4 linked regions of the Homo sapiens genome follow. The protein of the gene in region 2 interacts with the protein of the main gene of each other region in a pairwise test. Each region holds a gene or a part of one and is shown on either strand. Other genes may lie near its edges. The genes, in order: CRYGC, alpha-crystallin A2 chain, PTTG1IP and SPSB1.

Region 1 (7,556 bases), on a different chromosome or scaffold from region 2:
TGCCAGAACGATGTTTTTTGTAGTTATTTTTTATGTTTGGGGTACACTATACCATGAAAATCTATTTAAAAGATTGATGTGTATCTCTTAATATTAATTTATTTGCAATAGCTGGTCACCATGAAACTGATGTGCAGTTTCTATAATTGACACAGCATTTGGGCCAGGGGTAGTACCGACCAAGAGCTACACTTCTGGACAGGAGTCATTTTCAAAAGAAGATGAATAGTCTTTAACTTTGTTCAAAGGTACGGCAATGGCTGCGGTGGCCCTGGCATTAGTTATATAATACTGTGTCTGAAAGTAAACAAAACTACAATCCTTTATATAGTCTAATCAGGCTGTTGGCCAAGTTAAGTTTGCCCTCTCCACTCATCTGACTTTGCCTTTTGTCTAACCCATTTTTGGTTAGAAGGAAACTTCCCAACTATTGTTCCTCAAGGTGCTTAGTTGAATGCCTCCCTTCTCACCAGTCAGCCTCTCCCAGGTCTCTGGCATTGCCCTGCGTTTTCTTTCTCGGGCAGGCTACACCCTGCCTCCACCCCAACGTCTGAGGCTTGTTCAAACTCACTCTACCTTGAAGCTCTTCTCCAATAGACCCCGTCCCCCACCCCATTCACTTCTTAACTTTTGACAAGGAGCATTTAAAGGTGAACTGATTTGCACAATGAAAGAATGACAGAAGTCAGCAATTGCCAGCAATGCAGACTAAATATTTATTAGGTTCCAAAATGGGAAATTGGTAGTGTTAAGCTATTTTAATACAAATCCACCACTCTCCGCAAAGAGCCTGCCTTAGCATCCATGGCCCCCCAGTCCTGGCACCGCCTGTACTCTTGGGGCCTCAGCAGGTATTGCCGCCCCCGGTAGTTGGGCAGCTCGTAGAGGACCCAGCAGCCCTCCAGCACGTGGAGGGAACGGATCTCGCTGAGGTGGAAGCGGTCCTGGATGCTGGGGCAGTCTTCACTCAGCTCCATCATGAGGCCTTTGTGGTCTTCCCTCTCGTACAGCCGCAGCCTGTGGGAGACTGTCTACTCGGTCCACAGAAAGAAGGATGGAAAAAAGCAAATGAGTCTCTTCCAGAATTTGTCCAACCAAAGAACAGATGAACTTGGTAGGTTGTGGCATGGAATTGTCATTGTAAAATTTAGACAGTGTAAAATGTAGATTACTGTGGTTGCTGCGCATGGATCTGTCTTCCACTAGCACCTAAATACTGGCACGCTCATTTTCTATTTGACCTGAAATTCATTCTTATTTAGGAGATGGAATTTTTAAGAGGTTCAAACTCTGAGTTAGAATCCATCAAGAACTGAGATATCTTGATTCCTAATTACCTGTGTTAATTCAAACTACATTTGGGGGGAAAAATAGAAATAATTTATTTTCACTAGTATTCTTTTAGTAAGGGTATTATCTCCCAAATTTACAAACATATAAATTTACCACTAAAGTAAGATTTAAAAAATCTTGTACTTCAGTGTAAAGTTAAATAGTCATTTGGAATGAGAATTTAACTGATTTTCCAAATTAAGAAAAATTACCTTTTCCAAAGTTGGACACAACCTTTGAATAGCCTATATTAACAATACAGCTTTGAAGGTTTACTAGTCCATGGTGGAATCTATCTAATTCATTCATTAGAAATTCTTTTACTATAGACAAAATAATTTGTTAAAAATACCGTCTTTTTATGCCCAACCAGCTTCCCATTTGCAAGTTTTGTTTTATATCCCATTATGATATTACATTTGTTACAGACCTCTTTTAATTGACTTATTGGTAGCAAAAATTTCAAGTAAAACGGATTCTTCCTCTAAGTGGGTTCTTCCTTACATTCTCTGCTGTTTTTGTGCATGTTATCTATCTGGCTTATTCAGGTCTCTGATGTCCATCTAACCCTTAGGTGTTTTTAAATGCAAACCTCCCTCCCTGTAACCCACATTGACAATACAGTGGGGACTCTGGCGGCATGATGGAAATCTAGAAAACTCACTTGGGGGATGAGACAACAGGAGCGGATGGAGTCGCTGAGGCCCATCCATTGCTGGTAGTCGGGGTACTCCCCTCGCCGCAGCAAGTATTGTTGACCTTGGTAGTTGGGACGCTCATAGAGCATCCAGCAGCCGCTCTCCACCCGGATGGAGTTGCAGCGGCTGAAATACGGCTGCAGGTTGGGGCAGTCAGTGGTGGTTTCGTAGCTGCGGCCCTGGAAGGCCCTGTCCTCATAGAAGGTGATCTGCAAAGGAAGAATCGTTCCGAATTACATTATTTGCTCCTAACAGGCATTATATAAAGGCAACTTTTTTTTCATTTTATTTAATTTGTGTTCTGCTCACCTTCCCCATGGCTGGTTGACACGGATGATGCGAGTTCAGTGTGATGGGGCCTGCGGCTGCACAGCCAGTCTATATAGCAGGATGGCTGCTGCGTTGGCAAGAACAACACAAAAGGGGCCCTCAGCGGTAAGGGGATTTTATGCATCTCTTTAACATCCTGCATTCACTGGAAATGATTGTAGATTGTGTCCTTGTTCTCTGGTATATTCTAACGCTGTCCTGTACATACTGCTCTGTGTTGCTTTTATTTGGATTGTTAGTGTTTTCTAAATTTATCTGTGCATCAGTCTGAACTTTTGACCTGAAATTCGTGGCTCTGTCTATATGATTGAATTATTCCCTGTGAATTTTCTGGGAAAGATCTATGCCATTATAGAATTGCTCCAGGATTCCAGAGAGGTTGCTGAGGTAGAATGCCACAAGCACTGACTCATTTCCCTGGATGGCAGAGACTGCTCTACCTTACATTTTTGTCTTTACACAATTTTCCAGTCCAGGGCCGGACACAAATCTAGATTCTTATCTTGGCTAGTTTTGACTTCGTTAACCCAATGCTTTAAGACAGCTTTTAACTATGCCTTTCGTGGGCACGTCGTCTAACTAGAGATCAGTCCCTGGTAGTGAACTTACGATAACAAGCAAGGGAAAGGTTTCTATGGTCACTGGGCCCAAGACTGAGAAGTACCGTATACTACTTTATAGATTGCTTTCCCTTTTTCAAGCGTGAGGGAGGCCATAAAGCTTCACGGGCAAGAGTGTGAGCTTTGGACTCAGGCCGCCTGTACTCAGAAGGCCCACTGATTAGCTCCATGGCAAATTATATAACCACTCAGAGCAGGAGTTATCTCATGGACTATAGTCTGATTAATGAGAAAAAAAGTGAGAAAAAAGAGTAGCCTCTGACATTCAGATGCTGGCGTGGCACTCGCAGTGAGGACATGTTACTCCGCTATTAGACATAAACAGTCTCACAGAATAACAACTTCAGACAAGGCTACTCCGAGACCAGGATGAAATGAGATAAAATAAATCCACTTCTTAACTTTGCCTAAGCGCAGACAAAAACAAAGTCAATGCTCCACTCTCAAAATCCCAAGCCCTCACTCTCTCAGCCAAAATGATTAACTGCCACTTCTTTATGGATTACAGGTTTATCCGTGTTCTAGTCTCCCCTCCCTACGGGTAAGATTTCTTGAGATAACTAATCACAAAATTAACCCTGCTTTCTGCTAACATCTAATCTGGAGTGAACTCCAACTTTTTTAGCTCCTTCCCCAAATCGCACAACTGAAGTGCAAATCCTATAACAATTTCTTTCTAAGCTCTCTTACTGAGACACTCCATGCTTCCCCAAGGAGCATGTCCTCCCTTGCTGCAACAAGTAATAAGCTCAACTTGTTTAAAGACAGGTGTGTCCCTGGTGGTCTTTAGCTAAAGGACATTGACATGAATAAGTGGGATTATGTGTATAAGGCATTTGGCACATACTTGGCACAAATGAACACTGAATAAATGTTGTTATTAGTAATAGAGTGACATTGTTAAGGCTGACTTCATCCTGTTTATCCCTCTCAAAGATATTTAATCCTCTCAAAGATTCCTGAAAAAATTTATCCTCTATGAAGCCATTTTGTGATTAAAGAAAAATTAGGCTTGGAAGGGACTTTCGAAACCATCGGGTGGTTTTCAAACTCCAGTGTGCCTAAGAATCACCTTGCTTATTAAAAATGCAAATTACCATCTTGATCTTTTGGCTAAATCCTGCATCATTAGATCAGGAGAAGACCTCAGAACCTACATTTTTATTTTTTATTTTATTTATTTTATTTTATTTTTTGAGATGGAGCCTTGCTCTGTTACCCAGGCTGGAGTGCAGTGGTGCGATCTCAGCTCACTGCAACCTCTGCCTCCCGGGTTCAAGTGATTCTTCTGTCTCAGCTTCCTGAGTAGCTGAGATTATAGGCGCGGGTCACCATGCCCGGCTAATTTTTGTATTTTTATTGGAGACAGGGTTTTGCTATGTTGGCCATGATGGTCTCGAATTTCTGACCTCAGGTGATCCACTCACCTCGGTCTCCCAAAGTGCTGGGATTACAGGCATGAGCCACCACGCCCAGCCCAGAACCTACATTTTTAATAAGCACCAAATAGTTCTTGGGCCAAAACACTGCTGTGGTTTATCCCTTCATGTTTTGACAAGGAAATCATGTATTTTAGCCATCCCTAGGCAATGCCTTATTAGGAATTGTACTAGCATTCTCTTAATTCTATTTATTTATTTTTTGAGATAGAGTTCTGCTCTGTTGTCCAGGCTAGAGTGCAGGGACACAATCTCAGCTCACTGCAGTTTCTGCCTCCCACGCTCAAGCTCAAGCTCCCACCTCAGTCTCTTGAGTAGCTGGGACTGCAGGTGCATGCCACCATGCCCAGCTAATGTTTTGTATTTTCTTTATGTAGAGACAGGGTCTCACTATGTCGCCCAGTCTGGTCTTGATCTCCTCAAGCAATCCATTTTCCTCTGCCTCCCAAAGTGCTGGGATGACAGGCGTGAGTCACTGTGCCCTGCCTAACATTCTCGTTAGACTTAAAGGCAGATGTGCTCTCTGTTTTGTAGCACTCTTTTTTTTTTTTTTTGAGACGGAGTCTCGCTCTGTCGCCCAGGCTGGAGTGCCATGGCGTGATCTCAGCTCACTGCAACCTCCGCCTCCTGGGTTCAAGCAGTTCTCCTGCCTCAGCCTCCTGAGTAGCTGGGACTGCAGGCGCCCACCACCACGCCTGGTTAATTTTTTTTTTTTTTTTGTATTTTTAGTAGGGACAGGGTTTCACCGTGTTAGCCAGGATGGTCTCGATCTCCTGACCTCGTGATCTGCCCACCTCGGCCTCCCAAAGTGCTAGGATTACAGGCATGAGTCACCGCGCCTGGCCAGCACTCTTTCTTGTTCTATAAAGTTTCATATGTACACAGTGAGAGAATCGGAGCAGAGATACCAGCACTTAAATTAGAGCACTGGTAAGAAGACAGGAAAAGCAATAAAGGGGCCAGAAAGTGCATATTACAGAACATCGCTCTTGTTCCATAATGGCGTAGTCTTGTATTTCTCTAACCTTTTTTCAAATCTTTCTCCTTCTCTCCTCTGCCCCAACCACCTCCCACCCCCAAACCCCTGCCATTGTAGCTGCCTTACATAGGGTCTTATCATATCTCAGCTGGACTTTCAACAGCCTCCTGACTCTGCCCAGTGTTGTCTTCCTCCAAGCTGCACTCAGACAGATGCTGGAGTGATGAGAATCAAAACACATCAAATCATGCTGTTCATTTGCTTGAAAAATTTCATGGACTCCCATTGTCTCCAGGATCCAATATTGATCCCTTAGCGCGGCATCCTAGACCTGGCCTCCGCTGTCTGTCCCCACGCTTTCTGATTGATCACGCCGAACCGCTTGTCATTTCCCAAATGCACAATGTTATTTCATGTTGTTCTTGTTTTTCAACATATTGATCCTTCTCAATGAGACACCAGTTTATTTTTCAACCAGAGAAATTTTACCCTTTCTTCAAGTCTCAGCTCAAGCGTCAGTTTGTCTGTAAAAGATTTTCCTGAACCCTTCCTAATCTTCTGGGCTGAATTAAATACTGCCTCCGTGGCTCCTCATGTTCATACCACTATAAGGGTAACTATCACTTATCTAATTATTTTGTTTAGACATCAGTCCCTCAAAATAGATGGGAGAGCCCCATAAAGGCAGAGTCTATTCCATCTTTATTTTTGTGTTCTCACTAATTGGCTTAGAGGACTGGCACATAAAGGTTACTCAATAAATGCCCGGGAGGGGGGATGTGTGAATGTTATTCCTTGTCTGAAATTTATTATTATAATGGTCTATGGAGCCTGTTTCAAATGTTCAATATACACAGGCATAACACACTCACATTGAAGTTCAGGATGTGCAACTTTCGGTGTGTAGGATGACACAGGCACCCTGCACTTGATCGATTTAATGGGGCTTTTTTTTTTTTTTTTGAGGCGGAGTCTCGCTGTGTCGCCCAGGCTGGAGTGCAGTGGCGCAATCTCAGTTCACTGCAAGCTCCGCCTCCAGGGTTCACGCCATTCTCCTGCCTCAGCCTCTCCGAGTAGCTGGGACTACAGGCGCCCGCCACCACGCCCGGCTAATTTTTTGTATTTTTAGTAGAGACGAGGTTTCACCATGGTCTCGATCTCCTGACCTTGTGATCCGCCCGCCTCGGCCTCCCAAAGTGCTGGGATTACAAGAGTGAGCCACTGTGCCAGGCCTTCTTTTTTTTTTTTTGAGATGAAATCTTGCTCTTGTCACCCAGGCTGGAGTGCAGTGGTGCGATCTTGGCTCACTGCAACCTCTGCCTCCTGGGTTCAAGAGATTCTCCTGCCTCAGCCTCCCGAGTAGCTGGGATTACAGGCGCCTGCCACCACGCCCAGCTAATTTTTGTACCTTTAGTAGAGTCAGGGTTTCACCATGTTGGCCAGGCTGGTCTTGAACTCCTGACCTCAGGGGATCTGCCCACCTCGGCCTCCCAAAGTGCTGGAATTACAGGTGTTAGCCACCACACCCAGCCATAATGGGCCTTTATAACAGTGGAGATAATAAGCAAAAGGGAAAAACCAGGAATGCTGTGTTGTGCCCTAAGTCCTCCCACTCCTTAGTAATTCTAATTTTTATTTCTTCTGAGATGAGAAATTAATGTTACAACAGCGGTAGCCAATTCTAGAGTTTTGCTGGTGTCTGAGGTCCAGCCAGCAGTTGATTTTACCACCCACCTTCCTGCTTCTTAGCAATTAATATACGGTGGTATCCTATGCAGTCATGCATCTCTTTTTTATATGATTGCAATTTTAATTTTAAAAAATGGGAAAAAATAGTACCCTTGCAAATAAAAAGGCAATTCTACAAATTAATATAAAATTCACTGGGGAATTCTAAAGCGAAGGCCAAGAGTTCCCTCGAGGACATGGGAAAGGCATCATGCTGGGGTTTTTGTGTGGTGCTTTGCCAGTCGGCACCCCCTCAGCAAGCCCTTCCTGAAGGGCTTATTGCCCTGGTTTTGAGAAGTCTATCTAAATAAAATACAGCAAACTCTGCCCTCACCCCAGGGAACTGGTCCCTTCATGCTTCTAGAAGAATTGAGATTAGCTTGTCCAATCTACTCTCTAGTCATCTTCCTACTTGCAGGCTGCTAGGGGC
Region 2 (7,582 bases):
GTTGACTGCAGATTTGTGATTTTCACTTCTGTCTGAGGTTTTGCTTGTCTTTTTACAGTTTGCAGCCTTTTCTCTCATTCGAAATTTGGTCAAGGAGAAAGTGTCATCTTTAAAACTGGCCATATTCTGAAACTTGGTTCAACTGACAAATCTAAACATTCTTCTTCTTCTTCTTTTTTTTTTTTTTTTTTTTTTTTTGAGACAGAGTCTCGCTCTGTCGCCCAGGCTGGAGTGCAGTGGCATGATCTCGGCTCACTGCAACCTCTGCCTCCTCAGTTCAGGCAGTTCTCTGCCTCAGCCTTCTAAGTAGCTGGGATTAGAGGCGCCTGCCACCATGCCCTGCTAATTTTTTGTATTTTTAGTAGAGTTGGGGTTTCACCATCTTGGCCAAGCTGATCTTGAACTCCTGACCTCGTGATCCCCCTGCCTCGGCCTTCCAAAGTGCTGGGATTACAGGCGTGAGTCACCGCGCTTGGCCATTTTCTTCTTTAGTGACCAAAATTCCTCCCCTTAGGCATTTTTGGTCATTCAGAAGGAAAATCTAAATTATGGACACTTGTGCTTCTAGAGCAGACATGCATCTGCAGAGACGGCAGCTGGATTCGTGGACAATGCTTATGGTGCCACCTTCTGTCAGTATCTAGAAACATGGTCTCACTTAACCCGTGAAGACCCCAGACTATAATAGCTAAAATGGGGCGCCTTTAAAGTAACTAGTTTATGCACTCAATAGGAAAAATCTGCATCTAAAATTTAAAAACTGAGAGAGCTATTTTTCAATGATACTTAGAAGCTTCTAAAAGAAGTTCTGATGAAGTCATTTCTTTGCAAGAAGAAAACAGAAGATTATCTGAAACTATTTCTTTTGTTTGTTTGTTTTGAGACAGAGTCTTGCTCTGTTACCCAGGCTGGAGTGCATTGGCGTGATCTTGGCTCACTGCAACCTCTGCCTCCCAGGTTCAAACGATTCTTCTGAGCTGGGATTACAGGCATCCCCCACCTTGCCTCGCAATTTTTTTTTTTTTTTTTTTGAGACAGAGTTTCATTCTTGTTGCCCAGGCTAGAGTGCAGTGGCACGATCTCAGCTTGTTGCAACCTCCCCCTCCCGGGTTCAAGCGATTCTTCTGCCTCAGCCTCCCAGTAGCTGGGATTACAGACACCCACCACCATGCCTGGCTAATGTTTTGTGTTTTTAGTAGAGACAGGGTTTCACCATGTAGGCCAGGCTGGTCTCGAACTTCTGATCTCAGGTGATCCACCAGCCTTGGCCTCCCAAAGTGCTGGGATTACAGGTGTGAGCCACCACGCCCAGCCATCCACAGTTCTTTTTAAAATTTAGAAGTAGTTTCAGGCTGGGTGAGGTGGCTCACACCTGTAATCCCAGCACTTTGGGAGGCCAAGGTGGGTGGATCACGAGGTCAGGAGTTCAAGACCAGCCTGGCCAAGATGGTGAAACCTCATCTCTATTAAAAATACAAAAATTAGCCGGGCATGGTGGCGGGCGCCTGTAATCCCAGCTACTTGGGAGGCTGAGGCAGAGAATCACATGAAACCCAGGAAGCGGAGGTTGCAGTGAGCCAAGATGGCGCCACTGTACTCCAGCCTGGGTGACAGAGTGAGACTCTGTCTCAAAACAAAAACAAAAACAAACAAACAAAAAGACCATGGAGGCTTTCTCCTGTTTGTTTCCAGCTGCTGCTTCTCCTTCTGCCTCTGGGATGATCTAAACTCATCTCTTTCTGCCTGTTCCCTCAGCTCCCATACATCTCTTAAGCAGTGTTTTTGGAATTCCACAATGCACACATTTCCTTCTCTCAAAAAGGGGAAAGTATATTTAAATTTGGAACAGACTGGGTGCGGTGGCTCACACCTGTAATCCCAGCACTTTGGGAGGCCAAATTGGGCAGATCACCTGAGGTCAGGAGTTCGAGACCAGCCTGGCCAACAGGGTGAAAACCCGTCTCTACTAAAAATAAAAAAAGATTAGCGGGGAGTGGCTGCGGGCTCCTGTAATCCCAGCTACTTGGGAGACTGAGGCAGGAGAATCACTTGAATCCGGGAGGCAGAGGTCGCAGTGAGCCGAGACGGCGCTATCGCACTCCAGCCTGGGCGACAAGAAGGAAACTGCGTCTCAAAAAAACCCAAAACAACAACAACAACAAAAATAAAAAATAAAAAATAAAAGAAATAGGCCAGAAAAGAAATGTTAGCTCAAGCCTGTAATCCCAACACTTTGGGAGGCCAAGGCTGGTGGATCACATGAGGTCAGGAGTTCAAGACCAGTCTGGCCAACATGGTGAAACCCCATCTCTACTAAAAACACATGTGGTGGCATGTACCTGTATTCCCAGCTACTCGGGAGGCTGAGGCAGGAGAATCGCTTGAACCCAGTAGGTGGAGGTTGCAGTAAGCTGAGATGGTGCCACTGCACTCCAGCCTGGGCGACAGAGCGAGATGCTGCCAAAAAGAAAAAGAAAAAGAGAAAGGAAGGGAGGGAAGGAGGGAGGGAAATTAAAAAAATAAAATGCTAACATCCAGGGAATTAGTTCAGCTGAGATCAGATCTGAAACAAGTCAAAACCCTTTAAATGCTCAAACTGCCTGCTCTGGAGCCCCTGCAGGGTTTGTCAGTGCTCCAGCCTGTGGGCCAGAGGCTATGAGTCTCTACAAACATGAGGCTATGTTTGCAGCCTGGGTTCAATTTCCAGTCCTGTTTTTTTTTTTTTTTTTTGAGACGGAGTCTTGCTGTGTTGCCCATGCTGGAGTGCAGTGGCATGATCTCGGCTCAGTGCAGCCTCCGCCTTCCAGGTTCCAGCAGTTCTCCTGCCTCAGCCTCCCGAGTAGCTGGGATTATAGGTGCCCACCACCACGCCCAGCTAATTTTTTGTATTTTTAGTACAGACAGGGTTTCACCATGTTGGCCAGGCTGGTCTTGAACTCCTGACCTCAGGTGATCTGCCTGCCTCGGCCTCCCAAAGTGCTGGGATTACAGGTGTGAGCCACCGCGCCTGGCCTTCTTTTTTTTTTTTTTTTTTTTTTGAGATGGAGTTTCGCTCTCGTCACCCAGGCTGGAGTGCAATGGCATGGTCTAAGCTCACTGCAACCTCCACCTCTCAGGTTCAGTCAATTCTTCTGCCTCAGCCTCCCAAGTAGGTGGGATTACAGGTGCTCACCACCACGCCTGGCTAATTTTTGTGTTTTTAGTAGAGATGGGGTTTCACCATGTTGGCCAGGCTGGTCTCGAACTCCTGACGTCAAGTGATCCACCCACCTCAGCTTCCCAAAGTGCTGGGATTACAGGTGTGAGCAGCAAGATTTCTTTTTCTGAGCTGTCTTTAGAGTGGTTCTGACGCTTAGGAAGACTGCTTTGCATTTCTTTGGAGATGCTTGGTTCAGCCTTGGTTAAGTCATGACCTTCGTTATGCCATTACCTTGGTTAAATCTTTGTTTTTGAGATGGAGTCTCGCTGTGTCACCCAAGCTGGAGTGCAGTGGTGCGATCTTGGCTCACTGCAACCTCTGTCTCCTGGGTTGAAGCAATTCTCCTGCCTTAGCCTCCCGAGTAGCTGGGATGACAGGTGCATGCCACCACACCTGGCTAATTTACCTTGGTTAAGTCTCACTGGTTTTGTGAGTAACTTGAAAATGTCCATTTCGTTTTTTTTTTTGAGATGGAGTTTCGCTCTCATTGCCCAGGCTGGAGTGTAAGGGATGGCCTGATCTCGGCTCACTGCAACTTCGGCCTGCCAGGTTCAAGCGGTCCTCCTGCCTCAGCCTCCCAAGTAGCTGGGATTACATGCATGCACCACCACACCTGGCTAATTTTGTATTTTTAGTAGAGACAAAGTTTCACCATGTTGGCCAGGCTGGTCTTGAACTCCTGATCTCAGGTGATCCACCCACCTTGGCCTCCCAAAGTGCTGGGATTACAGACATGAGCCACCGCACCCGGCCAAGTTTTTTCTTTTTTTATATGTAATAAGTTGGATAAAGTGTTTATAAAAAGTTAAAAGTAGGCCCTCAAGCAGGTAAAGTAGGCTTGCTTCTTTTCAGAGCTATCCATGCTGATTCCAGGCATAGAGAATGCCTCCTTTGCCCTATTCATTAAAGGGCTTCACCCTGAAGTCAGTAATCTAATAGAGAAACAAGCTAAGTTGAAAAGACCCTGTGATGGTTAATATTAGCTGTCAACCTGATTGGATTGAAGGATGGTAAAGTATTGTTCTTGGGTGTGTTGTGAGGGTGTTGCCAGAGGAAATTGACATTGGAGTCAGTGGACTGAGAGAGGAAGACCCACCCTCAGTGTGGGTGGGCACCATCCGATTGGCTGACAGTGTGGCTGGAACAAAGCAGGTGGAGGAGGGTGGGAGAAGCTGGCTTGCTGAGTCTTCTGGCTTTTGTAGCCACCCAGTGAGTTCACCTAGCCGGCTGCCTAGATGGAGCGGATTTATCAGGACAGGGGAATTGCAATGCAGAACGAGTAATTTACACAGAGCTAGCTGTGCGGGCGACTGGAGTTTTATTATTACTCAAATTAGACATCCCAAGAATTTGCAGATCAGAGTTTTTAAAGATAATTTGGCGGCTCAGGAAGTAGGAGTGCTGATTGATCTGGCTGGAGATGGAATCACAGGGAGGTCAAAGTGAGGTTTCCTTGCTGTCTTCTGTTCCTGGGTACAATGGCAGAACTGGCTGAGCCAGATAGCCGGTCTGTGTGGTATCAGCTGATCCATAGAGTACAGGGTCTTGCAGAATAAATACCTCAAGCACTGATCTTCGGATTACAATGGTGATGTTATCCCCAGGAGCAATTTCGGGAGGTTTGGACAGCCAGAGGCTGGATGACCTTTAAATCAAAATTTCTTTTTTTTTTTTTCAAAGAAGCCCCATTTTATTACAGAGAGCATACAAAGCCGTTTCCTCATAAGGAAAAGTACAGCTTCCCTTCTCCAGGGTGACAGATGAGCCTTTTCTGAAGTTCTCAGCTTTCTCTTCTATCGATATTTCCCATGTCAGTTAAAGTGTTTGTAGAGACAGCTGATGCGTTTATTGAGGTTGTGCAGCTCATCAGCAAACATTCTGTTTCCAACCATTTTCTTCTTTAGCATACAGCGTTGCAATTCATTCCCCTTCCAATCTCGAAGCCATATGGGGTCCCTGATCAGCTTTTGGGGTGCTTTTCAAAGTTTCCCAGGATCCTGATGTTGTCATACACTCTGAACATGGCCATCCTTTCGTTCCAAGGATCAACTACTTTGGGGGGTAGGAGCCTTATACCAATCAATCTAGGAATACCAAGAAAGAAGCTTCTGCATGCCACACCTAGTCCCACAGGCGCCTACCTGCCCTACATAAGAGGCTCCCTGCCATTTCTCTAGTCTGCCCCTTCAACAGCACACCAAATAAGCCCAAGAATGAGGACCAGATGTGGCCTTCAAGAAGACAACAGGAACCGTCCCTGTCGACTTCACACGGGTACTAACGTGAAGGCAGCCACCTTGGGCCTTAAAATTTCTAATCTTGTAGCTAATTTGTTACTCCTACAAAGGCAGACTGGTTCCTAGGCAAGAAGGGGATCTTTCTGGGAAATGGCTATTATCAATTTTGTTTCAGAGTCAAACTATAAGCTAAATTCCTTCCCAAGGTTAGTTGGCCTGTGCCCAGGCATGAACAAAGACAGCCTAAAGGTTAGAAGCAAGATGGAGTCAGGTAGGTCTGATCTCTTTCACTGTCATCATTTCCTCAGTTGTAATTTTTGCAGAGGCAGTTTCACTTTCATCTTTCTCCTGTGCTGGATGCCTCCTCCGTTCCCCCTGCCCTTGGACATCAGACTCCAGGTTCTTTGGCCTTTGGACTCTTGGACTTAAGCCAGTGGTTTGCTTGGGACTCTCGGGCCTTCAGCCACAGATTGAAGCCTGCACTGTTGGCTTCCCTACTTTTGAGGCTTTTGGACTCCGACTGAGCCACTCCTGGCTTCCTTCTTCTGCAGCTTGCAGACGGTGTATCATGGGACTTCACCCTGTGATGGTGTGAACTAGTTCTCCCTAATATACTCCCTTTCATATATATGTCTATTCTGTTAGTTCTGCCCCTCTGGAGAACCCTAACTAATGCAGACCCTTGTGTAACTTTGATATCCAAAATATGGCTTTCTAGCATTTAGCTGGCTATTTTGAAACTCTTTGTAAAAAAAATTTATATATATGAAGGAAATCTCCATTTGTAAGGGTGTCTCCCTCCCTGCACCCAAACTGCTAGAAACTGAAGATGGGGAAGACATTGGCTGAAGACACTGTCTTACAGTTTACATCACAGACCTTGCCTTCGGTGGAAATACTTTTCCTGGCAACCTCGTCTTCACTAGGTGTAGGGACCAGCCCCACAGGATCGGTGGGTTTTTCTCCCCATGTGCAGAGACGAGAGATTGTAGAAATAAAGACACAAGACAAAGAGATAAAAGGAAAGACAGGTGGGCCTGGGGGACCACTAACACCAAGATGCGGAGACCGGTAATGGCCCCGAATGTCTGGCTGCGTTGTTATTTATTGGATACAAAGCAAAAGGGGCAGGGTAAAGAGTGTGAGTCATCTCCAATGATAGGTAGGGTCACGTGGGTCACGTGTCCACTGGACAGGGGGCCCTTCCCTGCCTGGCAGCCAAGGCAGAGAGGGGGAGAGAGAGAGACAGCTTGCGCCATTATTTCTGCATATCAGAGACTTTTAGTACTTTCACTAATTTGCTACTGCTATCTAGAAGGCAGAGCCAGGTGTACAGGATGGAACACGAAGGCGGACTAGGAGTGTGACCACTGAAGCACAGCGTCACAGGGAGATGGTATGCCTTCGGATAACTGAAGGTGGGCCTGAGGCCCTCCACAAGAGATGGAGGAGTAGAGTCTTCTCTGAACTCCCGTGGGGAAAGGGAGACTCCCTTTCCCGGTCTGCTAAGTAGCCGGTGTTTTTCCTTGACACTGACGCTACTGCTAGACCATGGTCCGCTTGACAACAGGCGTCTTCCCAGACGCTGGCGTTACCGCTAGACCAAGGAGCCCTCTGGTGGCCCTGTCCGGGCATAACAGAAGGCTCGCATGCTTGTCTTCTGGTCACTTCTCACTATGTCCCCTCAGCTCCTGTGTCTGTATGGCCTGGTTTTTCCTAGGTTATGATTGTAGAGCGAGGATTATTGTAATATTGGAATAAAGAGTAATTGCTACAAACTAATGATTAATGATTTTCATATATAATCATGTCTATGATCTAGATCTAGTATAACTCTTGTTGTTTTATATATTTTATTATACTGGAAAAGCTCGTGCCCTCGGTCTCTTGCCTCGGCACGTAGGTGGTTTGCCGCCCACAACTAGGCTTTTACCTACACCCTTCTTCCTTGGTTTGAATTCAGCTCTGTGCTTTTGAGATGTGAATTTTTTCTACTTTGTTTCACCTCAGTCATCCCTTTAGAAGTGCCAATTTAGTGTTGCCTAGCTAACAGTTGCTTAGGGATCATGTAAAAGGGGGAAATAAAAACTATTTGAGAGCATAATCAGGTTAAGTATTAATGCTAAAACTTACTTTACAAGTTAGT
Region 3 (7,819 bases), about 38 Mb from region 2:
GCTTCCCTCCTTTGTTCAGGTGTGCTCTCGCCATTGTTCCATCTGTGATGAGCACCCCTTCTGCAGAAAGTAAAAATGGCCTTGCTGAGAGAATTAAATTTATGTTCGAGTGCTGTGTCTTTGCAGCACTTGGGAACAAGCATTCTGTTTCTAAATAACAATTTTTACATATAACAGTGTTTTAGGAACCCCTAAAGCATCTCCACCACTTTCATGTATTATACAAATAATAGAATGGAAGGTTATAATTTGTATGCCCCAAAGGCGGAGCATTAGCAAGGTCACGTTTGATCATTTCAAATGTTGGTGTATTTTCTTCTGACCACTCTAAAGTCCTGGCATGTCCTGTTTTTAGAGAGCGTATAAGGACTGAGCTTTAAAGAAAAGTTTGGGATCCAATTTCTATAATATCCTGCCAGTCCTCCACATCCTTTTGTTTCTTGGTTGTTGGTGGTGGAAAGCTAAAATTCCTTTCAGTCTATCTAGATTAGTAGAAAGTCTTTCTTTAGATATTAAGTGGCCCAAGTACTTTGTTTTTTATAAAATTGAGGTTTTTCTTTAGGAATTTTATGTCCCTTTAGGGCTGTTGTAATGAATGTATCCCATCTTCTATAAAAGCTTTGCTTATCTTCTGAGCAAAGGAGTAAACTGCCCATGTATTGTAATAAAAAATTTTTTTTAAGAACAAGTCAAAAGACTGGGCCCAGTGCCTCGCGCCTGTAATTCCAACACTCTGGGAGGTTGCAGTGGGCGGATCACCTGGGGTTCAGAGTTTGAGACCAGCCTGACCAACATGGAGAAACTCCATCTCTACTAAAAATACGAAATTAGCCAGGCATGGTGGCGCATGCCTGTAATCTCAGCTACTCGGGAGACTGAGGTGGGAGAATTGCTTGAACCCGGGAGGCAGAGGTTGCAGTGAGCCGAGGTAGCGCCATTGCACTCCAGCCTGGACAACAAGAGCGAAACTCCGTCAAAAAAAAAAAAAAAAGAACAAGTCAGTATGTAAGACAACTGTCTTTGCATCAGTTGGACTCTCAGTGTAGCCCTGAGCATGGCTGTCTGTGTGTATTGTCTGCCTTCCCAAGTAAAGGTAAAGAGAAATCAACACTTTCACACACAGAACTACTGAAGGATGTGCTAATAAGTCCACTACACTAAAGGACTTTGATCGGGGTAGCCAAGAGGATTCTTCCAGTATCAGTGGAAGACTCTGACCATATTTGATCAAGTACTGCCTTTAGTAGGTTTTGTAATTCTTCATTATTCAATAATTCAGTGTCTTCTAGGGCAATTAGGGATCGCAATTGGGTTAGATTTTGAAACTTTTTTTATGTCTAGTAACTCAGCTTTCTCATCTAATTCTAAATACGTCTTCCCCCTTTGGGAGAAAGAAACGTGGATATTGTAATTCTAAGAAGTCTCCTTTTATAAGATGGCTGGCAGCTGATAGAACCAGAAGGAAAATGTGAGTCCCTTGTAAAGGACCTAGTTGAAAAGCTATAGGCTGAGATTTACGTGCCGTTACAGGCGTATTAGTGACACCTACCCTTTGAACTTTTTTTTGACTCCAAGGAATGGAACCTTGTAACAAGATGGGATTTATTACAGAAAACACGGCTGCTCTATCAGCAAAAGCTTATGTCAGCAATGGGAACTCGTGTTAACTATTTTAAATAATTTTTATGGCCAGGCGTGGTGGCTCACGCCTGTAATCCCAGCACTTTGGGAGGCTGAGGCAGGTGGATCACAAGGTCAGGAGTTCAAGACCAACCTGGCCAATATGGTGAAACCCCATTTCTACTAAAAATACAAAAATTAGCCGGGCGTGGTGGTGCGTGCCTGTGGTCTCAGCTGCTCGGGAGGCTGAGGCAGAGGAGTCGCTTGAACCTGGGAGGCGGAGGTTGCAGTGAGCCAAGATTGAGCCATTGCACTCCAGCCTGCGCAACAGAGCGAGACTCCGTCTCAAAAAAAAAAAAATTATTTTTCCCAAAGTAGAGGCAGGGTCACACACTCGGGTATTTAAATTCTCTGGGAAAACCAGTGGGGTCCTGGTGAGCATCAGGAAATTCCTTGATTATACTTTTAAGTTCTACCTTTGACCATAACTCATGAACTAGGGCACATAGTTGTCCCCTATGAGAGACACTGGCTGTTTGAGCAATGGCCCCAAAACAGGAGGAGGAGGAGGAAGAAAGGTGGGTCTGGGCGAGGTAATTCAGACAACAAAGGATAAAGAGAAGGAGCTGAGGGAGGAGGGGGAGAAATTTCAGTAGTCTTTTTTAAATTCAGAAATTATTTTAGATAATTTTTGTTTTTCTCTCATAAATACCTTTATTAGAACTTCTTTTGGATGCTTCCAACTACCATAAAAAATAACTCTCCCAAAGATTCCGTTTTATCCTAGAGCCAGCGTTTTCCAATTGAGCAAACAAGTAAATTACCTTGGTGTTCCAATGGTACCCGGCTTTGGTCACTGAAATGTTTTTTCTCAAGTTACGTGAGACCATTTTTCTAAATATAACGAGAGGTGGCACCATAAGCACTGCACAGGAAACCAGCTGGAGTTTCCAAAGATGGGTCCTCCCTGAAGGAGAAAGACTTGTTTTGGATGGACGATTGCCTATGAGTTCTCTTAAGTGACAAAAGACTGTAAGGGAAAATCTGGTTACTCAAGAAGAAAGTTTAGACATGTCAAATTGAACTCAGCTCCAGAGCCTGGCCAGTTTTAAGGATTACAAATTTTGCTTAAGCCACGATTCGCTGCTTCTTTTCAAAGAGAAACTGCTTTCCCCTTCTCCAAATCTGAAGGACAAAAAAGGTTGCAAACTTTAGCAAGACGAACAAAACCTTAACCTCGAAGGATAGTGTTAACCACACACCTGCAAACAGCTGACTCTTTGGAGAAATAACAAACGAAACTCTTGCCTTAAAACCAAGCCTCAACTCCAGCCCTATCAGGTGTGGACCTGGGTAGGCGGAACAGAGTCTGAACCTCAGCCCTGGGAGGCTGCCAGAGACCCCGGCCAGGTTCCCAGGCGGTCCGGTGAACCAAGGCCGCTCCGCGGGTGCCAGCGCTCCGAGTGCCAGAGAAGTGGCTCGGATCACAAGAGGCTGGCTTCGGAGCCATCTGCAGGCGCCCAAATCCCAACCTAAAATCACCACAGGGTCAGAATCTAATGTAAGGGGGGGTTATTCAAAGGCAGTTGGAGGCTGGCCCACCCGGAAACACCGGCTCCAGAGGAATGGAGTCCGCCCTCGGAAGCGGGGAGGGGAAGGGTGCCCTCGGGCAGGCAGAGGCGGAGGCTTTTAGCAGGACCGCGGCGTCCTTCCTACGAGGTGGGCGCAGTCCTCGCGTTTGATGGACGACGGGCAGTGCCTGCTTCAGGGAAGGGTGCGGCAGTCACGGTTTCCCGTCTTCTGGTCTAAGCAGTGCAGAAAACAGGGAAGTTCATCTACAAGGGTCATGAACTAAGAAGGCAGGAGGTTTCTGTCCCCGGCACCGGCGAATCCCGGACCCGAGAAAGGAGCTACGGGCGCACAGAAGCGGGCGGCCCCGGCTCTCGCGGGGCTTAAAGCGCGCAGTGTGTTCGGGTTCACACCTCTAAATGTATTTTTGCCATTTCTTAAGTAGCCTTAAAAATGTCCGTCACTATTTAGTCCTTTTATCAACCGAGGGGCCCGGAAGGCCGCAGCGAGGGCGTCGGCGAGAAGCCATGGAGGAGAAACGGCGCTTCTCTCGGGAGTTTAGGTGGCAGCTTCAGCAGCACACGTTTCAGCCCATTCTGGGGCCGTTTCTAGTGTGGTTAACGTACAAAAATAAACAAATCCCCTAAAAGTCCCACGCGGACATCGGCGGGAGCCCAGGGCCGGACGCCGCGGTGTGGAGCGAGGGCGCCGGCGCGGACTATGAGGGCCCACCGCGCCTCGTCCAGGGCTCACTTAAGAGCAGCGTGAGCAGCGCTTGGGACCGCCGTCCGGGACGCCCGCAGCCCTTTAGGATGGAGGCCACCGTGACCTCCGCCACCGAAGCACCGCGCTCCCCTAGTCCCCTCAGCCGGTCGCCGTTCCCCGCCGCGCAGGCGCAGGAGCCGCGGCGAGCCCCTCGGTCACGCCTCGCCCCTCGGTCACGCCTCGCCCCTCGGTCACGCCTCGCCCCTCGGTCACGCCTCGCCCCTCGGTCACGCCTCGCCCCTCGGTCACGCCTCGCCCATCCGCGCCGCGCAGGCGCACTGAGCCTCAGCCGCTCTCCTCGCTACCAGGCTCCTTTCCTCTATCGCGCAGGCGCACTGAACCTCAGCCGCGCCGGGAGGCGAGCCCGTTGGCGAGGGGCGGGGCAGATGGCGAGGGAGCGGGGCGAGCTGCTTTTTGAGGCTGCGCACTCGCATGGCCCCACCTCGCAGGTCCACTTCCGGCGCCGCGGCTGTTCCGGGCGGAGACCGCTTGTGCTGGAGTCGGAGTTGTAACGCTCCACTGACTGATAGAGCGACCGGCCGACCATGGCGCCCGGAGTGGCCCGCGGGCCGACGCCGTACTGGAGGTTGCGCCTCGGTGGCGCCGCGCTGCTCCTGCTGCTCATCCCGGTGGCCGCCGCGCAGGAGCCTCCCGGAGCTGGTGAGGGCGCCGGGGCGGGCGGGGCCGCGAAGGGGGCGGGGCGGCTGGTGGGTCCAGGTCGGGGTCGGGGTCGGGGTTTCGGCCAGGGCGCTGGGCTCGGCGGGCGGCCTGGGCCCACGGTCGCAGGCAGCGCCCCGACGGAGGCTCCTCGAGGGTCACGCCCGTTTGGCGGCCGCGGGAGCTGCCGTCGCGGCTGGGGCGCGGGCAGGGGAAGAGCCGTCTTTGTCTTTGTCTTTGTTTTGTCCAGTCGCTGCGGCCGCTCCTCGCGCGTGGCCTCGGGTTGGCCCTCGCCCGGCAGGCGGGACGCTTGGCACCTGCGGCCTCCCTTAGCCTCACTGCGACCCCAAACAGCACTCCTCGGGTTCGATCCCGAGCCGGGAAGCCGGCTCACGACGTGTTCGAGGTCGCACAGCTGGTCGGGGGCAGGCCGGGATGGCGGCCGCAGGCCCCTGCAGGGTGATGGGGCCGCGGCCGGTGTGTCTCTACAGCCGCCGGCGTTCACGCCGCCACTCCCTCCCGGCCGCAGTTCCACGCACAGCAGCGAACGCTCGCACTTATGCCTTAGAAAGGAAGGCGTCCCCAAAGCCAGGCTGTAGCATCTGATTTTGAAGCAAGCTGATTGCGGTTCTACGCTGTCCAGACGCGCAGGTGGCATTCTTCATCGTTTATCCCGTCTGCACCAGGCCCTGCGGCCACAGTGGTGACCGACAGCCAGAGCTCCTATCCAAGAGGAGCTGAGTCCCCGGGAGGCTGACCAAGAAAGAAGCAGTGAGGGCGCGGGGGCTGGGGGAGGAAAGTGCATGACAGGAGACTCAGAGTTCCAGAAACCGGCAGTGTTTATAGAGGGTGGCTTCCTGTGGGGCTGGGCCTCCAGGGCCTGGTGGGCTGCGGGAAAATCCAGCAGGTTCTAAGCTGGAGAGTGTCATGGTTGGACCTGTTTCACAATGTCATGCTGGCTTCCGTGTGTGGAGTTTCCAGGTGACCACTAGTGGTGGGGAATAGTGCCACCTTAACTTCAGTTTCCTGACCCTTACAATTAGGGTTGACCTGGGCCCAGCTTGAGGGGCTAATACTTTTCTCAGCTCTTGTTAGCCCAGGCTCTGTCAGTGTCTGTTTAGCATAGTAGAGCACCTTTTCTTTTTGTGACCTTATGGAATGTTTATTCCGATGCAGGATTATTTGTGTTTCTTCTTACCTGCCTCCAAGTGTGCTTAGGGTTTGTGACGTTAGCAATGCAGCTGCCTTGAAGTTTGTTAGTCAAGGAGGCCAGTGGGACTGTACTGGGAACTTTTGGCCCAGATTGAGTTCTAAGCGCAAATGTGCAGTGAATACGTTTCCACAAACAGAATGGGCGTCTGCAGGCAGAGTGTGTGATTCACTGGCAACTGTATCAGTGGCTCGGGGGTGTGTTTGCTTGCATTGTGAAAGCGGGAGTGTCAGGAAAACAACCATGAGGTTTTGTTTGACTGTGATTCCTCCTGCTCTGCACTGCTGAAGGGTGCAGAGATGGGTGTGGACGAGTGGAGTGGACAGTGTGGGAATTAATCCGGAACTGCCATTCGGTGTGTCAGCTGAAAAGCCATTCGGTGTGTCTGCACTTGGAGGCTGCACTTGCTTGCTTCCACTTATGGTAATCACCAAGTCCTGGTGGGTGGACTGTTGTTTCTCTCACTGGGGACCCCTTGGAATAGGAAGAATGGTGCCGTGTCATGTTGGCATTCACTGCCCAGGCGCCTTTGGTGTCTGCGTGCCCCTTGTCCTTGGAGAGAGGGGCTATTTATAGCCTGGAGAACTCCCCTCTTCCCACAGAGTACTTGCTTGGTGTGAGATTTTTACTGCTTGTCATGGTTACAGGAATGTGACCGCAGTACTGATGTTTAAAACGTTTTGTCTCCTTTACAAGGACACTGTGTGAATTTAGAGAATACATTATACCAATCCAAATCCAACACTTTTAAGCATCTTTTTATGTGTTTTGATGGAGGAGAGACATTAAGAACCCATGGTGTATTGAAGATCTTTAGAGCAAGATTCTTGAAGTTAAACCTGGATAGGGCTTTTGGACCCCACTTTATTTGTGTATGGGGTCAGACTCAATCCAAGAGCTTCATCTGGAGGAAAGACGACCCCAAAAAGGAGCTCAGACTGCTGTGTGAGGGCTGGCGCAGTGGTGGCCAGTGCAGGTCCCCGAGGTGGTGGGTCCCACTCAGCTGCTCCTTACAGTGGGGACTCCTGATGTGGAGTTCTGCCCCTGTCACCCTGAGAAACGTGGCTTTCTAACTGTACAGAGTGCTACAGTGTACATAGGGTTCACAGTGTTGATACATACTCCTAGTCTTCAACTCTTTCTTTTGAAATAGTGGAGTTTCCAAGAACATTTTTTTGTCTCCATATCTGCCCTCTTTTCTCACCTGGAATTGACAATGTAGTTGTTCTCCATGCCTCTGTCACAGTGCAGAGTGGGCACCATGCCCGTTTGGCTGCTCGTTCTGCTGATGAGCATGGAGACTGCAGCCTGTGGCCTGCGGTGTGACAGGAGCATGACAAGGAAATACGTACACTTGCTGGTGTGTTCCTTTGTCCTTAGTGTGTTTATTGACTCACCTGAAACTTCAGGAAAGCACTCAAATGGGTCATGGAGGGTTGGTGTATCCTGACAGAAGAAAACGTTATTTGTTGTTGTTGTTTTTTCCTTTAATTTCGGAAACAAATGAGACTGAAAGGTCTTTAAAAATTGATAAATGGAGTCTAAGTTGAAGCCTTGCAGTCATAGGACCCAGAAGTCAGGGCAGTCACATTCAGTGTTAGACTTAAGCAACACAAGGGCAGTTTTTATCTCTGGTTTTCTAGCACATGTTTTTTCTGTATCTTGTGATGAGATAAGAGATAGTGATCACTTAGAGAAATAAACACTGCTTGTCTTTGAAGCAGTAACAAATGATTCATGCCTTTCTTTTTTTTTTTTTTTTTTTTTTTGAGATGGAGTCTTGCCCTGTTGCCCAGGCTGGAGTGCAGTGGCGTGATGTCAGGTCACTGCAACCTCCGCCTCCCAGGTTCAAGTGATTCTCCTGCCTCAGGGATTACAGGCGCATGCTATCACACCCGGCTAATTTTCGTATTTTTAGTAGAAATGGGGTTTCTCCATGTCGGCCAGGCCGGTCTCGAACTCCTGACCTCAGGTGATCTGCCCACCTCGGCCTCCCAA
Region 4 (7,535 bases), on a different chromosome or scaffold from region 2:
TTCTCAGGGTCCTCAGGAAGCCCATGAGTCAATGCGTCAAGGACTCAGATCAGAGCCAGTACTCGCACGCACCGTGAAACCATGAAACCATTTCCCGCTATTATTATGCTTAGGATTCAAACAAAGTCACGTCCATAAAGCACTCTGTAGCACAGAGCCGGGCACCTGGCTGCCAGTGGAACTTTAGACTGGGGGAGATGTTATCAGATAACTGGGGGAGGGGAGAGCACTCACTGAAAGTCCAAAATCGAAGTCCCTTAGAGTCTGGATTTCACTGATCTAGTGTTGAGGGCTGGGGAGAGGATAACACACCCCTGGGCAGACTGAGGCACACCTGTACCTGACCTTGTGCTGTCGTCTGATAAAATTTTTCAGAACCAAAAGATACACTGAGTCATGCACACCAGCTACAACCTATTTCTCGAGAAAAATTGATACAAAATGCCCAGACGAACTCATGAACACCGTAAGAATCAGAGGTTTCGCTGAATTTGAAAATGCGTCTGCAGGCAAGTTTCCATCCACCCAGGAGGAGGGGCAGGTGCAGGAAGGGAGCACGGCACACACCATGGGGGTGGGAGGGCAGCGCTGGCTTCCACGGGCTAGGCCCCCACCCCATTCCCCAGCTCTGGTGAAGAAATTCAACATCTGTGATGATTCCAAGGGGGTGAGATTCTGCAGCAGCCCAGAGGGACCCACTGAAGGGTGGATCCAGCCTTACTACAGCAGCCCAAGAAACGGCCTCACCCAGCTCCAAAGTGACATCACCAGGGCCCCAGGCAGGCCCACCCCTTCCTAAGAGCCCTGAAACCCACTGATTCTTCCCAGGGCCAGGTCTCTCTTAAGCCGGCATGGCACCCGCCTTGCTCCCTGCTCGGGGCTGTCTGAGCCACTGGGGCCAACATGCTACTGCTTTTGTTTTCTCTGCTGCTAGGGTGGTAGCCAGACTGGAAAAGGAAGACTTGTAAAGTGATTGCCTTAGTCCACTCCACACCTCCCCAACCGCACGCGCGCACACACACACACACACACACACACTCACACTCTCACACACACACACACACTCCATCTACTGGGTAAAGTGCTCCCTGCAGAAGAAAAGCAGCTGTAAGAGAGCAGGAGTGCTTTAAATGATCTAATCCAGCCCATCACTTCACAGCTGGGGAGACACGAAGTGCCTGGCCCATGACCTCAGTGCTGGGGACAGTAACCAAGAGCAACAGTTTCAGGACTGGGGAGTCTTGGTCCACAGCCCTGGCTGTGCAGTCTGGGTAAGTGAACCGCCCTCTCTGGGCCTCTCTAGGACAGGCTGGCCTAGACAGTAAGACAGGACTTCCCTGACTCCAAAATTCCTCAGTGTGGAGAGACCACCTGTGCTGCCCATGCTTAGCCCAGGGCTTTCCACCACTGGGAGGGGGGTCTGAGGAGGGGGACAGGGCAGAAGGGAGAGGCCCCCATCCCCTTCCTTGCTTGCTGTTCTCCTCACACCCCACGATGAGAAATGAAGTTGTGGGCCCAGCCCCCCCAACGAGAAAATTCTTCCAAGGACATCAAACCTTAGTCACCAGGGATGGCGCTTTTACCATGAACACCTGTTAAAACTCAACTCATGACCAGTTTCTGATGCTACAGACTGGAGTGTTTAATTAAATATTACTCACTCAGGAAGCAGCCCCTGCCAACTCACCCCCAAACTGTGTAGTTCATTTTCAGAGAAATGGAGAGAGGAAGAGCCTGCGCTCTCCTCGGGGGCACCAGCAGGGCTTGCCTAGTGGGGTGTCTGTGGCCCAGCATGCCCGGCTATCCAGAACCAAGTAAAGAAATCACCATGAGGAGCAGTACCTAGGAACCAGAGGGCCCCCTGGATGGTCCCCACACACACTCACAGAGAAACACACACAAAGACACACAGACACACACTTGGAGACACACAGACACTCACACATACACAGACGCACTCAGAGACACAGACACAGAGACAGACACAGAGACACGTGTGGACACACAAAGAGACACAAAGACACACACACGCAAAGACACACACAGACACAAAGACACAGAGACACACATTTGCAGAGACAGACACTCAGAGACACAAACTTGCAGAGACACACACCCAAAGACACATACACACTCACACACAGACACACACAAAGACACACAGACATACACAGAGAGGCACACACAAATACACAAAGACGCACTCAGACACACACACACACACACAGTCACTTAGAGTCTCAGGCACACATTGACAGACACACAGACTCACACACACACTCAGAGGCACATAAATACACAGATGCACTTAGAGACACACTCACACACACACCCACATGAACACACAGACACACTCATACGCAGGCACATATTCACAAGGACATGCACAAACACACACGCAGATGCACTCTCAGAGACACCCGCTCTTCCTGCAGACCCGCACCCTCCTCTCGGGGCCGTCCCGTCCTCACCGGAACCTGGACGCCACCGAGCCCAGTACACGCCCGGGGACGGTGACCCATCCGCGGTTCCTCCCGCGGGCCCAGGCCGCCCTTGTTTTTCTGATTTAATCGATTTCCTGACAACCCTCCGGCTCTCCCTCCGCTGCTGGGAGAAGCCGCGGCGGCTCCGGGGCGGCGGGGAGGGCGGCGCTCGGGTGTCCCCGGCAGGCTCCCTGGGGGAGGCGCTGCGGGAGGGTGGGGGCGCCCCGACGGGGGACCGGGCCGCGCCGCCAATCCCGACTCGGACTGGCGGGAAAAGCGAAACTAACTCAGCCGAGCGGGGTCCCGCTTTCCCCGGGCTAAAGGGGGGACGGGTCGGCGGCCCCGGAGCGCCCCAGCCCCTCCTCGGGACCGCAACTCGTTGCGACGGTCCCCGCGCCCCGAGACCCCCGCCGCGCCTCGCCCCGGGACCCCCTGCCCTGCAGCGGCGGCAGCGCGGGGCGGGCCTGGGCCCCTCTCCCAGGAGCCGCGGCGAGGGAGGCGCCCCCGGAGCCACCGCGGGAGGGGCCGCGCCCCGAGTCCCCATCCCGTACTCCACCCGCTCCCCCGCGCCCGGCCCCGCGCCACCCACTCGGTCCCCCAGCGGCGCGATCCCCGCGTCCGCCCTCGCCCGGCCCCCCGCGCCTCCCCCTCCCGGGCCGGTCGCCCACCCATCGGGGTCCCAGGTGCCCCGCGCCGCCTACCGCGCCCGGGGTGCCGCCGCCGCCGCTGCTCTCCAAGGCCGAGGAGGCTCGGGCGCCCGGGCCGCGCCCGCCGCAGGGAGCGAAGTCGCCTCCTCCCCGCGGCCCCGGCCCCGGCGCCGGCGCCTGGAGCCTGGTTCCTGCTGCGAGCGCGCAGGCTGCCCGAGCGCGACTTCTGTGCGGAGGAGAAAAAGCAACCGACGGCTTTAAAGTGAAAAAAAAGAGAAAAGCGCCGGTGGGCGGGGCCGTCCCTGCCCCGCCCCGCCCCGCCCCGCCCCCGACCTCGGGCGCACGGACCACTCAGCACTGCAGGGAAGGCCGGGGGCGCGGGGCGCGGGGCGCGGGGCGCGTCAGCCCGGCGCTGGTTCGGCCGCCCCCTCCGCCCCCTTAGTCCGCAGCCCTCTCCCGAGCCGCCGCCCTGGTGTTGCCGGCCCGAAGCTCGGGTCCCTCCGGAGGCGTCTTTGGGAAACGCGTGGCGCAGGGCCTGGGTTGCAGCCGTGGGAGGCTGGAGTGGGGGCGGGGGTCTTACGAGAAGGAGAAATCTTCGCGGAGAGTGGGGTTGTCCCAGGAACCCCGAGCAAGGCCTCGCCGGCCTCCTCTGAAGTGCCCAGCGGGGACGAGTGGGCAGCCGCCGGGGGTCCAGGGAGCCTCCTGCAGCGCTGTTTCGGCCGCTCGCGTTTCGGTGCCCACGGGGACGGGGGCCTCGGACCTCGAGACCCTGAGGGCGCGGGCACCTGGCATCCGCAGGGCTGCTCCCTGAACAGGTCCCAGCCTCTGGGGACTTGTCCTGTGGCTCTAGCTCGTTCAAGGAATTTTCCTCCCCCTTCCCCGAACAGAGCAGTCACTTGGGACTGGGAAGATTTTAAAGACTTTGCTGTTTTGAGAGCAAAATCTCCTGGCATTCCCCACCCCTCGCTGTGTAGTGTCCATTGAAAACGGTGAGGAGTTAGCCTTTCTGGGGGAGCCGAAACAAATAGCGGGGCTTCCGTAGTTACTGTGTCTTTACCATAACCCAGTACAGTGAGGGTGGGACTAATGACACACTCACTGTAAAGGCGAGGAAACAGTGCCTGGCCCGAGGCCAGCTGTCCAGAGCTTGGAACCCAATTGAACTGTGAGATTACAAAGTTTGATGTCTCTCATTTTACGGTGCTGAAAATCAGTTTGGTTTAGCTTTGTTTGAACTCAGAATAGGATTACGGAGACTCAACCAACTGCCCTGGGCTGGGCGGGCCTGAGTGGGCATTCTGACTTTCCAGGTGCCAGCGGTTTAGGAATGTTGAACCCAGACTAGTCAGGTGGGCAGCCATGGCCAGCAGCTTAGGGGTGCTTCCCATTTAAAAGATCACTTGAGGCTGGAGGTGGTGGCTCTCACGCCCTTAATCCCCACACTTTGGGTGGCTGAGGCAGGCAGATCACTTAAGCCCAGGAGTTCAAGAGCAGCCCGGGCAACAGAGCAAGACACAGACTCTGCACAAAAATTAAATAATAATAATAATAATTGGCCGGGCATGATGGCTCACACCTGTAATCCCAGCGCTTTGGGAGGCTGAGGCAGGTGGATCACCTGAGGTCAGAAGTTCAGGACCAGGCTGGGCTTGGTGGCTCACACCTGTAATCCCAGCACTTTGGGAGGTCGAGGCGGGCGGATCACGAGGTCAGGAGATGGAGACCATCCTGGCTAACACGATGAAACCCGTCACTACTACAAATATAAAAAATTAGCCAGGCGTGGTGGCGGGCATCTGTAAGTCCCAGCTACTTGGGAGGCTGAGGCAGGAGAATGGTGTGAACCCGGGAGGCAGAGATTGCAGTGAGCCGAGATTGCGCCACTGCACTCCAGCCCAGGTGACAGAGCGAGACTCCGTCTCACAAAAAAAAAAAAAAAAAAAAAAAAAGAAGTTCAGGACCAGCCTGGCCAACATGGCAACACTCCATCTCTACTGAAAATGCAAAAATTAGCTGGGTGTGGTGGTACGTGCCTGCGATCCCAGCTACTCGGGAGGCTGAGGCAGGAGAATCTCTTGAACCCAGGAGGCAGAGGTTGCAGTGAGCCGACATCGCACCACTGCACTCCAGCCTGGGCAACAGAGCGAGACTCCATCTCAAAAAAAAAGAAAAAAAAGGTAATAATAATTTTAAAAGAGCATATGACCCCCTCCAGCCACTCTGCAGTTTGAGAACTGTTGTTTACTTGGGAGACTGGTGAGAGCCTCTGGGACAGGCCCATGGGGTGCAGCCCACGTCAGTCATTGCTGAAAATCACAGCTGCCTCTGATGGGTTCATTTCTCCTTGGGAGAGTAGCCCTGTTTGGTGGATTATTCACTGTGTGTGTGGCATCTACCAGACACTGGCATCTCATGGGGCTGGTGCTACGGCCACGTGGCCTGGGGCCATGGTGTTGTCAGCTTTGCTAAGAGGAACTCCACCAAGCCTCACCTCTTAACATCTGGGAAGCTTCCAGGGCAGACTGGGGCACTTTGGAGCTAGAGACCCAGCTTTGATGTTTAAGGCCCTGAAAGACAGTTCCTGATGAAAAGTCTTCAGCACCCCCACCCCACCCCCCTTCGGCGTTAATCTGGAAATCTCAGCTCTTGATCCAGTTGAATAATTAGACCCTGCTGACCTAAATTTCCCAGAAGAACCCCTGGGGAGTGGGCCTTCTCTCCTCCAGGACGCTGGGCAGGTTGGCCGGATGATGGAAGGCTGGTCAGCCGGCAGTGACTGCTGCAGCATGGGGCAATGTTGAGCAATCCTGGAAGCCAGTTTATGTGTCAGAAGGGCTCAGAATCACCCTAGCATGCTGATACTATTGTTTGTTAAAAAAAGATACATAATCTTGCAACATTGTGACATAAGCTGATAGATACTATCCAAAAATTTGAAGGGTGACTCAGGACTTATACAAAGATCTGTGTACTGCAGGGGTGAGTCGGGAGGGAGGTGGCTCTGGGCTCCCAGTGGTGTCATCCCCAACCCCCTCCCCAACTCCACCCCACCCCCACACACATTTTATCACTTGCATCAGCACAATTTGCTCATGTCTTTAATCTGTCTCCGGGAAATGGTGAAGAGAAACTTGATAGATGGTGAATTAGCATCAGCTGCTTTTTCTGATGATGGTTCTGAGCCTTGAGCTCTTAGCACAGAATCCTGCTGCCCTCACAAGTGTTAAAGGCTGCCATCTTCTCTGAATCCCTTTTGCTGATTGGAGCAAATGTGCAAAGGATTTGGTAATAGACAAACCCAATGCAACCCCCAGCTCTGCTATTCATCAGCTGTGTGACCTTGAGCAAGTTACTTAACCTTTCTGAGATTTCCTGTTCTCATCTGTAGAACTGCTCTACACATTTCCCCAGAAACTGGGGAGGTGGTGCAATCATTCAACCAACATTAACTGAACACAATTAATTGTGCTAGAATGAAATCAAGGATTTTGAGAATTTTCAAGATAATAGGTTTTTTTTTTAAAGAAAAGCTTGGTATCCACAACACAGAATTGTAGCAAGATCCACCAGAACATGAAGAACACTGAAGCATATTAATAAAATCTACATCTATTATGCATCCTTAGCATAAGATGTGTACTTATCTCATGATGCAAAACAGAAGTAGAGTGTTTATATGTTAATTAAAAAAAAAAAATAGAGGCAGGGTCTTACCATGTTGCCCAGGCTGGTCTTGAACTTCTGGGCTCAAGTGATCTTCTTGCCGTGGCCTCCCGAAGTACTGGGATTATAGGCATGAGCCATCACAGCTGACTTCTCGCAGAATTTTGATCTCATAATATTCCCTAATTTAGTACATTGATTCATTTTGTAGATCATTTGGTCATAAATTACTGTAGTGCTCACACTGGATCACATCTTGTCAGACAGCGACGCCTGCTGGCAAAGCATGATATTGCACTATAGCTCTATCAGACTTTGTTAATCACGAATAAAGGAAAAGACTAAGAGCAAAGTTTTGGGGAGATTTAAATGAGACATTAGATGATAAACAGGCTTGGAAAGAGTTCCTATGACTTTGAGAAAAAAATAATAAAGAGATGATATTGGGTTTGGGACAATAACTATTGCAAAGTTCTTCAAAAACACAGTGAAGTAACAGCAGACTGTGATATTGGTGCCTATCTTAAATCTTCACCAGTTGCTTTTAACAGTATTTCAGTTTATTTCTATCCATGGGACATCTTGAATATACATTATAATATAATTAATTAATTTTAATAGTATTAATGTAGTAAAACTCCATTAAACAATCAAAGTGAAACCCCCTCCAAGTATTTATTATTTGGCCCTTCAGTATTTATTTTTATTAAAAATTTAGGAACCTAATGAATAAATATGGAAC

The links.
Region 1: the proteins of alpha-crystallin A2 chain (region 2) and CRYGC interact in binary tests that used the Homo sapiens proteins (3 or more experiments, as listed by UniProt).
Region 3: the proteins of alpha-crystallin A2 chain (region 2) and PTTG1IP interact in binary tests that used the Homo sapiens proteins (3 or more experiments, as listed by UniProt).
Region 4: the proteins of alpha-crystallin A2 chain (region 2) and SPSB1 interact in binary tests that used the Homo sapiens proteins (3 or more experiments, as listed by UniProt).

The regions. Positions count from the first base shown.
Region 1 is NC_000002.12:208,127,445-208,135,000, forward strand, and holds CRYGC (gamma-crystallin C), read right to left. Parts: upstream 2,385-7,556; 5' UTR 2,349-2,384; coding exon 2,340-2,348; intron 2,240-2,339; coding exon 1,997-2,239; intron 1,032-1,996; coding exon 759-1,031; 3' UTR 693-758; downstream 1-692. UniProt on the Homo sapiens protein: Crystallins are the dominant structural components of the vertebrate eye lens.
Region 2 is NC_000021.9:6,502,022-6,509,603, forward strand, and holds part of alpha-crystallin A2 chain, read left to right. Parts: intron 1-4,781; exon of another isoform or gene 4,782-5,368; intron 5,369-7,582. UniProt on the Homo sapiens protein: Contributes to the transparency and refractive index of the lens. In its oxidized form (absence of intramolecular disulfide bond), acts as a chaperone, preventing aggregation of various proteins under a wide range of stress conditions.
Region 3 is NC_000021.9:44,870,297-44,878,115, reverse strand, and holds the start of PTTG1IP (pituitary tumor-transforming gene 1 protein-interacting protein isoform 1 precursor), read left to right. Parts: upstream 1-4,425; 5' UTR 4,426-4,499; coding exon 4,500-4,614; intron 4,615-7,819. UniProt on the Homo sapiens protein: May facilitate PTTG1 nuclear translocation.
Region 4 is NC_000001.11:9,288,721-9,296,255, reverse strand, and holds the start of SPSB1 (SPRY domain-containing SOCS box protein 1), read right to left. Parts: upstream 3,363-7,535; 5' UTR 3,185-3,362; intron 1-3,184. UniProt on the Homo sapiens protein: Substrate recognition component of a SCF-like ECS (Elongin BC-CUL2/5-SOCS-box protein) E3 ubiquitin-protein ligase complex which mediates the ubiquitination and subsequent proteasomal degradation of target proteins.